Regions from separate parts of the Homo sapiens genome. Here region 1 is linked to region 2. The links come from fine-mapping of genetic effects on gene expression. A gene starts in region 2. The other region holds a variant in brackets. All regions are shown on one strand. Distances are from middle to middle. Region 1 overlaps ERN1 (endoplasmic reticulum to nucleus signaling 1). Region 2 holds the start of ICAM2 (intercellular adhesion molecule 2).

Region 1 (5,249 bases), 65 kb before region 2:
GCTCTTTGGGTCCTTAAATACCTTTCAAAAGGTATTTTGAATACCAACCCAGAACATTTAAAATCACTGCTAGGGTTACACTTAGAAGGGACTGGTTTGGGGACTTTCTAACTGTGTGGTAATATCTTAGTTGTGCAGAAGAGAGAGCTGATTTCCATTGCTGCGTTATGGGGGTCAGAAGGGTGGTCAGATGGGGTCAGAAAGAACAAGGTGGAGGAGGGCAGTAAAGCCAGAGGTCATCTAGAGTCCAACGGAAAAGCAAAAGCAGGGTGTTCCAGAAATATCCGTGCTCATCTGGGAAAGATAAGAGAAGGATCTTGCAAGGCTCCTTGAGCTCCAGTTAAGTGAGCAACCTGTTCTTGTGGCTTCTGTAATCAAAGGGATCTTACTTCTTCCTACATGGAAGGAAGTCTGCCCAGAGCTACCTCCAGAGAGAGGCCGTCAATCTCGAAGTCTGGTTTGAAACAATTATTTAAATTTTGGTTGATTGCATCAAAGACATTTTTCTGTTCAGCTGACTTATCACCCCATGTTTTCCCCAGGCCCTCACGAATTTTGCCAGCCCTGCATTTAGGGAAGCCTGGGATGGTCCTGACAGGGTCCTTCATGCTCTTAACTTGGGTTTCCCTTCAGTCTCTCTGTGCCCTGTGCAACTGGAAGAGCAGGCTCTTCAGAATTATGCCACAGGTGAGAGCAGGAGGAACAGGCCATTCTCTCCAACCTATTGCAGATGTTTGCCTTAAATAGCTTCTGTTTTTAGCTTTTTTTTTAACTTTTCATTTTATAAAAACTTTATACATACCCCAAAGTAAGAAGAGTAGTATCATGAAACCATGTACCCAGCACCCAGCTTCAATAATTATCAATGCGGGGTAATCCCTGTCCCTCTCCCTTAAATACTTTTCAAAAGGGCCAACCCAAAACATTTACAGTCACTGCTAGAGGTACACTTAAAAGGGACTGGTTTGGGGACTTCCTGAGTTTCTAGGTTGTGTGACTGGGTGGAAGTGGGACCCACTAGCCAATCTGGGGAATGTGAACTGAGGAGCAGGTCCTGGGGGTATGGCCTTGGGCTGAGACACCCATAGCAGTTGCAAGTGGGACTGGGTCAGGAGTCCAAGGGAGAACATCCTCAGATGCCATGCGGAGGATTTGCAAGTGTTGGTTTTGATCACGGGAACTTGACAGTGGCAGTTCTGATCTTATTCTGAGGGTAGGGGCCGGAGGGCAGTGAGTGGAGGAAGGTAAGAAGGCAGGAAGGTGGAACAGAGGATTCGGAGCAGTGTAGTTTCCCCACATGGCTCAATCACCCAGCTTGGGTTATAAAGGCAAATTCCTTGTCTCTACCTACAAAGCCAGCTTCCTGGGGGAAGAACCTAGGAATCAACATTCTAAAAATTCCATAGGAATCTCTAATACATTGCTGGTGGAAATATAAAACAGTACTACCAGTTTTGCAAACTGTTTGTCAATTTTTTGTCAGAGGTAAACAATATGATGCAGCCAGTCCCCCTCCTTGTTTTAAGAAATGAAAATAGGCTGGGCACACACCTATAATCCCAGCACTTTGGGAGGCCACGGCGGGTGAATCACGAGGTCAGGAATTCAAGACCAGCCTGACCAATAGGTGAAACCCCATCTCTACTACAAATACAAAAATTAGCTGGGTGTGGTGGCACACGCCTGTAGTCCCAGCTACTCGGTAGGCTGAGGCAGGAGAGTCACTTGAACTCAGGAGGTGGAGGTTGCAGGTTGCTGAGATTGTGCCACTGCACTCCAGCCTGGGCGACAGAGCGAGACTCCATCTCAAAAAAAAAAAAAAAAAAAAAAAAAAAGGAAAGAAAAGAAAAAAAAAGAAATGAAAATAGGTCCAAATAAACACTCGTACACAAATGTTCACAGAAGCTTTATTCACACCAGCCAAGAAAATAAAAACAACTCAAATGTCCCTCAGCAGGTAAATAGGTAAACAGATTGTGGTAAATTCTTATAGTAGAATACTATTTGGTAATAAAAAAGAGCGAACTATGATACATACAACAATATGGATGAATTTCCAAGACATTATGTGAGATAAAGAGGCCAGGCACAAATGAGTATCTATGACGTGGTCATTTGTGAAATTTTAGAACAAACAAAATGAACTGGTACTTATCTGGAGCAAGATTTGGAAATACTGAATCCAAAGGGATGTGAAAAAATGTTTTAGGGTGATGGAAATGTTCTGTATCTTGATGGTGAAGATAGTTACATGGGTGTGTGTTTTTCAAGATTGATTGAACTGTAAACTTAAAATGGTTGCACTTTGGAGGAAAAGGAGAGTGTGCAGAAGAGCAGGCAGAGCCAAGAGGTTTTTGTGTTTATAGGCAAAGGAGGAGTTGAAGATCCTTGGAGACAGGATCTAGATGTGAGTGTGAAAAATCTATGAGTGTGAAGACAAAAGCATTGTCCCTTTATAGAGATGTGAAGGGAAGGGTGGAGCTGGGCAAA[T/G]GTAGAAGACAAAGGGTAGGAAGTTTCAGCAAGCTCACTCAGTCTCCCTTAATATCCCCTATGACACAGAAGGCAGAGTCATTTGTGGAGAGACAGGGACCTTGAGGCAAGGAGTAGTTTGAAATATCAGCTACAGGGGTGAGAACAGAAGCCAGCCAGGATCTCCTAGTGGCAGGGGCCTAGCTGGCCACACCATGGAGATACCACGTATCATGGTATCTCCACTAATGATCGCAGTGTTTTCTACAGCTGTGCTCAGAAGGCTGGGTGGAGGAACAGGGACTGCTATGCAGATCCTGGGTTCAGGGTGAGTAGAGCTTATCTGCTGGATTATTAAAAGTGATCAACAATGGATTTCCAGGCTGGCCAAGAGTGGAAGTAGGAAAGAAACTGCGCTAGTTTGAATATTTGACCCTCCAAACCTCATGTTGAAATTTGATTCCCAGTGATGGAGGTGGAGCCTAATGGGAAGTGTTTGGGTCTTGGGGGTGGATCCCTCATGAATGGCTTGGCGCTGTCCTCATTGTAGTGAGTGAATCCTCACCCTATTAATTCCTGTGAGAGATGGTTCTTAAAAAGAGCCTGGCACCTTCTCCCCTCTCGCTGCTTCTCTCGCCCTGTGAGCTCTGTACACTCCGGTTCCCCTTTGCCTTCTGCCACTAGTGGAAGCAGCCAGAAGCCCTCATCAGAGGCAAATGCTAATGCCATGCTTCTTGTACAGCCTGCAGAAACGTGAGCCAAATAAACCTCTTTTCTTTATAAATTACCCAGCCTCAGGTATTCCTTTATAGGAACACAAACAGACTAAGACAGGAAATGACACTTAATTACTCCATTCAGCAAATACGTTGGTTACCACCTGTGTGTCAGGTATTGTTTTAGATCCTTGGGAAGATGCAGACAACAAAAAATAAATCCCAACCCTCCGTGGCCAGAGTTGGGCATTAAGTAAGCAATAAAATATACAGAACTACAGAGGTGGTAAGTGACATGGAGAAAAATTAAGCAGGGAAGAAGGGTTGGAAATCCTGGGCAGTAGGAGGTGATCATGGAAGACCGCTCTGAGGTGGCAACAGTTGATCAAAGACCTAGGCAGAGGAACAGCCAGTGCAAAGGTCCTGAGGCATGGGCAGGCCTGGCAGTGCTTGTTGAATACTTGGAGGCCGGCATGGCTGGAATGGAGTGTGTGGGAAATAGTGGGAGATTGTTAAAGGGTGACAGGTTGAAAGGGAGGGACTGCTTGGGATTTATGAACCACTGTGTAAACACTGGCCTTCACTGAGTGAGATGGGGAACCACCAAAGGATTTTGAGTCACAGAGAAGCTTAATCTGATTTATGCCTTTAAAAGGATCACTCTTCTCAGTGTCAAGGCATTGACTTATAGTCTTGACAAACATTTAATCCACATAGAGATGCCCCATGAGGTTGATGTTATCTCTATTTTTTTTTTCCTTACTGATGAGGAAATTGAGGCTCCACGAGCTTAAGTAACTTTGCCAAGGTCACTCAGCTGGTGATTGGCAGAGCCAGGATTTATGCCTTGGTTTGTCTGATTCCAAAGTCCACACAGATTAAGAGAGGAGGGAAGGCTTGAGAGACAAAGGGTTCCTATGGTGTTGAAGGGAATGGGAACAGGACACAGAATTATGGTTGGCATCGAAACAGACCACAGAGTTTGGCAACTGATAGCATGTGTTAGGGAGAAATAGACATCAACAGTGTCGTTTGAGTCATGGCTTTCTTCTAGGAGAATGGTGGTACTGTTAATAAAATACGGTAGTCAGGAGTAGAAGCCAGTCTCAGGCAAAAGACAGAGGGCGTGACTTGGGCAAGCAGAGGCTGAGGCGTTGGTGGGAAGTAGTGGGCGTGTCCAGTTGATCCAGAGAAAGGACCCGGGAGAGGGGAGCCTAGAACCCCACTGTGGTTAGGGTGGAAGTTATAGAGAGGCATGTGCTCTCTGAGTGAGAAGAAAGGCTGAAGGGAGAAGCTGGCAATGTTCCTCCCTGTGTGGAGGAGGGAGTGGGGACAAAAATTCACTGCTTTTGGGGACAGAAATGTTTAAAACTTTACCCTTATGAACTTGGACAAAGGAAAGATGTGGACGTCTGTTTTGTTATTTGAGCTTAAAGAAGTGATTTAGATTAGCCTAGCAATGAGCATCTTGTGACCTCACCCAGGATGTCAGTTCCTGCAGGTGTAAAACTTGTGCCATTCCAGGCCTCAGCTGGACACACGATGGGGGCCGGGGAGTGGAGTTGAGGCCAGTGGCTGCTCCCAGGGGATCAGTGAGCAGGTTTGTTTCTTTCCCGTGTTAATCCTGGGAGACCAAACCTTGATTTCAGCTATATTTTCCCTCTACCTTTACCAGATAACCTTACCTTTACCTTACATAACAGCCACTTTTTATATTTGTGAAGTAACTCCCCCACAACTTTTTTTTTCTGAAAGTAAAACAACTTGGTGACATTGGCTTTTATTCTTATCGGGCCCCATATAGATAGTGGCTTATTTTACAGCAGTATTTGTTTACATCCCTACAGGTAGGACAGTGTTTCTTTTCACATGGCTGAAAACTTTTTTTTTTAAAGCAAGAATCTTACCTGATATCAGTTCTCATTATTAAATCAAAACCACTTTTTCATGTTACTCTTTTAGTGCACATTTTCAGATAATGCTCTTTTTATTTTTGCTGACTTTCCAAAGATAATTTTCTCTTTAACCTTTTTTAATATGAAAAAATTTAACCATATGTACAGA
Region 2 (5,000 bases):
GCCTCTGAATGGTCTAATTTGTGACTTTGCTAAGCCAGAAGTTTCAATGTGCTGTGAGGCTGGCCCGTGGGAGCAAGATCCTCTGCTCGTGGGTGAGCCTAGCTGGCTGCCCGCCACCCACCTCTGCACCCAGTGTTCATACTTTCTGCTTGTTTGTACAAAGTCACTCTTCTAGAGTAATTGTTGTAAAATTGCTAGGCAAGGTGGCAGGTCTGATAAGATTTGATGAAGTGATAGGTCTTAGTCACTAATAAGAGGCTTTTTTGGAATGGTGTGTCACAGCCAAGGAAGCCTCAGCTCTGTGATCTTCGCCTGCCTCACTTGGGGGACCAGAAGGTAGCTTGTCCTGGAACTGCCTCATTCACAGAAGGCCCCAGTGAGTACAGAAACTGCACATCAAAGGGAGGAGTAAGGAAAACAGGATGGCAAATCTTCAAAAATTAAACAAAATTACTTTTTTTTTTTTTTGTAGCGATGGGGTCTCACTTTGTCACCCAGGCTGGTCTTGAAGTCCTAGACTCAAGCAATCCTCCCACCTCAGCCTCCCAAAGTGCCGGATTTACAAGTGTGAGCCACCAAGCCCAGTCAGAATTACCACTAAAAAAAAAAAAGAAAAAAGGTTAAGATGGTAGATTTTGTTGTGTATATTTTACCATTATGATCCAGCATTTCCACTTCTGGGTACATACCCCAGAGAACTGAAAGCAGAGTCTTGAGCAGGTATTTGTACAACCCTGTTTGTAGCAGCACTATTCACAATAGCCAAAGGTGGAAGCAACACAGGTGTCCATCAGTATATGAATGCATGAACAGAATGCGGCACACACGCACAATAGGATATTGCTCAGCCTTCAAAAGGAAGGCAGTTCTGGCCAAGCGTGGTGGTTCATGCCTGTAATACCAGCACTTTGGGAGGCTGAGGTGGGCGGATCATTTGAGGTCAGGAGTTCGAGACCAGCCTGGCCGACATGATGAAACCCCATCTCTACTAAAAATACAAAAATTAGCCAGTCGGCACGTGCCTGTAATCCCAGCTACTCAAGAGGCTGAGGCAAGGCCAGGCACGGTGGCTCATGCCTGTAATCCCAACACTTTGGGAGGCCAAGGCGGGCGGATTGCCTGAGCTCAAGAGTTTGAGACCAGCCTAGGCAACATGGTGAAACCCCATCTCTGCTAAAATACAAAAGAAATTAACCAGGCGTGGTGGCGTGCACCTGTAGTCCCAGCTACTCAGGAGGCTGAGGCAGGAGAATTGCTTGAACTCGGGAGGCGGAGGTTGCAGTGAGCCGAGATCACACCACTGCACTCCAGCACTCCAGCCTGGGCGACAGAGTGAGGCTCCATCTCTACAAAACAAACAAACAAACAAACAACAACAACAACAACAAAAACACTGAGGCAAGAGAATCGTTTGAACCTGGGAGGCAGAGGTTACAGTGAGCCAAGATCACACCACTGCACTCCAGCCTGGGCAACAGAGCGAAACTCCATCTCAAAAAAAAAAAAAGAAAGAAAAGAGAAAGAGAGAGCTCCAGAGATGGATGGTGGTGATGGTTGCAGAACAATGTGAATGTACTTAGTGCCCCAAACTGTACACTTAAACATAATTAAAATGGGCCTAGCACGGTGGCTCATTCCCAGCATTTGGGAGGCTGAGGTGGGAGGATTGCTTGAGCTCAAGAGTTTGAGACCAGGCTGGGCAACATAAGCAACACTCTGTCTCTACAAAAACTACAGAAATTAGCCAAGCCTGGTGGCTGCACACTTGTAGTCCCAGTCACTTGGGAAGTTGAGGAGGGAGGGTCACTTGAGCTCAGGGGTCAGAGGTTGCCACGAACTGTGATTGTGCCACTGCACTCCAGCCTAGGTGACAAAAGCAAGACTCTGTCTTAAAAACAACACAACAAAAAATTGGCTGGACGCAGTGGCTCTTGCCTGTAATCCTAGCACTTTAGGAGGCCGAGGAAGGCAGTTCACTTGAGGTCAGGAGTTCGAGACCAGCCTGGCCAACATGGTGAAACCCTGTCTCTACTAAAAATACAAAAATTAGCCAGGCGTGGTGGCAGGTGCCTGTGGTCCCGGTTACTCTGCGGGCTGAGGCACAAGAATCACGTGAACTCGGGAGGCAGAGGTTGCAGTGAGCCGAGATCACACCACTGCACTCCAGCCTGGGTGACTGAGACTCAGTCTAAAAAAAAAAAAAAAATTGAAATGGTAAATTCTGTTGTGTACGTTTTACCACAATTAAAAAAAAAAAAAGCGGAATGGGAGTGGAGCTAAATGAGGCTAGTTTAGGGTGGGAACCGGGGCACAGGAAGCACGTCACTTCTGGTGGGGAGTGGGGGGAGGGAGAAGACTGAATAAGCCGTGAACTGGGCAGCTGTGACACGCGCACCTTGTCACCTTGTCACCAATTTCCTGCCCGGGATCCCAGAGCTACCCTTCTTGGAGCCCACAGGGGTAAGGTTGAGCTTCTCACTTTCCCTCCAATGAAGCGTGGCAGCATGGGAAGGATTTTGGCAGTGTCGAGGTCTGAGTTTTAGTCCGTTCCCCTCTCTGGGTCTCAGTTTCTCGCTGGTAAGTGCAGGGGTTGGGGAATCCCCAGCGCTCCTGTGGCTCGACATTCTGCACTCTGTGAAGCTCCTGCCCTGCCCTGCTGGGTCTCTGAGCTCACGCACTTGCCCTGGCGCTCCTTTCCTGATTTGTCTCCCCTCTCTCCTTCCTCTGCTCTGCCATCTCGGTGGCCGATGTAGAAATGTGGGGCTGCCTCCTTATTTAGGGGCCCACGTGGGCTGTGATCTGGACCATCTGAGCTGATGCAGAGGGGAAGGGACAGTCCCTGTTCTCCCCGGCAGGCGTGGTGGGTTCATAATGAATCTCAGTCACTCACTTCCTACCTGCCTCGGTTCGAGGGGGTCTTTCCTAACCCATGGCTCACATTCCCATGAAGCCTCTTCTTTCTAGGCACGTAGAAAGGCCCTTTTTCCCTTTTATTATTTTTGTAAAATTTACTAGGTAACGCATAAAAAGCTTATGTAACATACATATACATCATACTGCACAGTAATATACCAAACACACCTGAAGCTGCCACTCAGCACAAGGATGGAGTATCACCAAACTGCAAACACCACTTATCTGCTTTTTTTTTTTTTTTTTTTTTTTGAGACAGAGTTTTCATTCTTGTCGCCCAGGCTGGAGTGCAGTGGCACAATCTTGGCTCACCACAACCTTCGCCTGCTGGGTTCAAGCGATTCTCTTGTCTCAGCCTCCCAAGTAGCTGGGACTACAGGTGCGCATGCCACCATGCCCAGCTAATTTTTGTGTTTTTGGTAGCGACAGGGTTTCACTATGTTGGCCAGGAGAGTCTCGATCTCTTGACCTCATGATCCGCCCACCTCGGCCTCCCAAAATGCTGGGATTACAGGCGTGAGCCACCACACCTGGCCACCACTTGTCCACTTTTATGCTACTTGCCTCCCACCCACAGGTAGCCACCCTCTGGAATTTTGTGTTTATTGTTCTCTTATTTTTAAGTGCTTTATTACATATGCATCTCTATTTATTTATTTATTTATTTATTTACTGAGATGGGGTCACACTATATTTCCCAGGCTGGAGTGCAGTGGCTATTCACAGGCATGATCATAGCACACTACAACCTCGAACTCCTGGGATCCAGTGATCTTCCCACCTCAGCCTCCTGATTAGTTGGGACTACAGTCTTGAACTGCTGCACCTGGCTATGCCTATTTATTTTTATTTTATGAAACAGTTATATAGCGTTACTGTGTGCTAGGCACTGTTCTAAATGCTTTAAAATATTTACTTATTTTATTTGTTTAATCTGCACAAAAACCCTATGAGGAAGATACTATTATTGATTCCTTTTTGCAGATGAGGAAATTGAGGCACAGAAAGATTAAGTGATTTGCTCAAGGTCACACAGATAGTGAGAAGTAAGGCCGGGAGCAGTGGCTCATGCCTGTAATCCCAGCACTTTGGGAGGCCAAGGCAGGAGGATCATGAGGTCAAGAGATAGAGACGGTCCTGGCCAACAAGATGAAACCCCATCTCTACTAAAAATACAAAAATTAGCTGGGTGTGGTGGCGTACGCCTGTAGTTTCAGCTATTCGGGAGACTGAGGCAGGAGAATAGCTCGAACCCGGGAGGTGGAGGTTGCAGTAAGCCAAGATCGCGCCACTGCACTCCAGCCTGGGCGACACAACGAGACCCCGTCTCAAAAAAAAAAAAAAAAAAAAAAAAAAGAGAAGTAAACACAAAGACATGTCTGGTTCTTAGTGTGACAGCGTTTCTAGGGCATACATCTAAGAATGGAACTGTGAGTTACAGGGTATAAGAATATTCCGTTTACAAGATAATGCCTAATTATCTCTGAGAGCACCAATATACACTCTCATCAGCAGTTAGAAGGGTGCCTATTAACCTACGGCCTCTCCAACAATTGGTCTTGTCATATTTCTTAACTTTTGCCAACCTAATACATATAAAATAGTATCGGTCCCATTGTAATTTTAATTTTAATTTCCCTGGCTACTCGAGCTAAATAATCTTTTCACTTGTTTAGACATGTTTCCTTTTCTTTGAAATGTTTCTTTGTGTCTTTTTTTTTTTTTTTTTTTTTTTTGAGATAGAGTCTCACTCTGTCACCCAGGCTGGAATGCAGTGTCGCGATCTCAGCTCACTGCAAGCTCCGCCTCCTAGGTTCACGCCATTCTCCTGCCTCAGCCTCCCGAGTAGCTGGGACTACAGGTGCCCGCCACCATGCCTGGCTAATTTTTTTGTATTTTCAGTAGCGATGGGGTTTCACCATGTTGGCCAGGATGGTCTCGATCTTCTGACCGCGTGATCAGCCCGCCTCGGCCTCCCAAAGTGCTGGCGTCACAGCCGCACCCGACCTGTTTCTTTGTATCTTAGTCAAAGATACCAATTGTTGATTTTATGATTGACAATTTCGAGGTCTTGCCCCAAGGATATG

The links.
Region 1: its variant is fine-mapped to the expression of ICAM2 in whole blood (TOPMed, PIP above 0.99).

The regions. Positions count from the first base shown.
Region 1 is chr17:64,083,224-64,088,472 of GRCh38, reverse strand. The region is part of intron 2 of ERN1 (endoplasmic reticulum to nucleus signaling 1); the gene reads left to right. Among named protein-coding and RNA genes, the nearest start is that of ERN1, 44 kb to the left of the region's middle. The variant T/G (reference allele first, on the strand shown) is at 2,491.
Region 2 is chr17:64,017,983-64,022,982 of GRCh38, reverse strand. ICAM2 (intercellular adhesion molecule 2) reads left to right here and starts at 2,350. Exons shown (of 5, transcript NM_001099789.2): 1 at 2,350-2,460. RefSeq lists enhancers at 1,911-1,960, 2,181-2,270, 2,016-2,516, 2,611-2,730.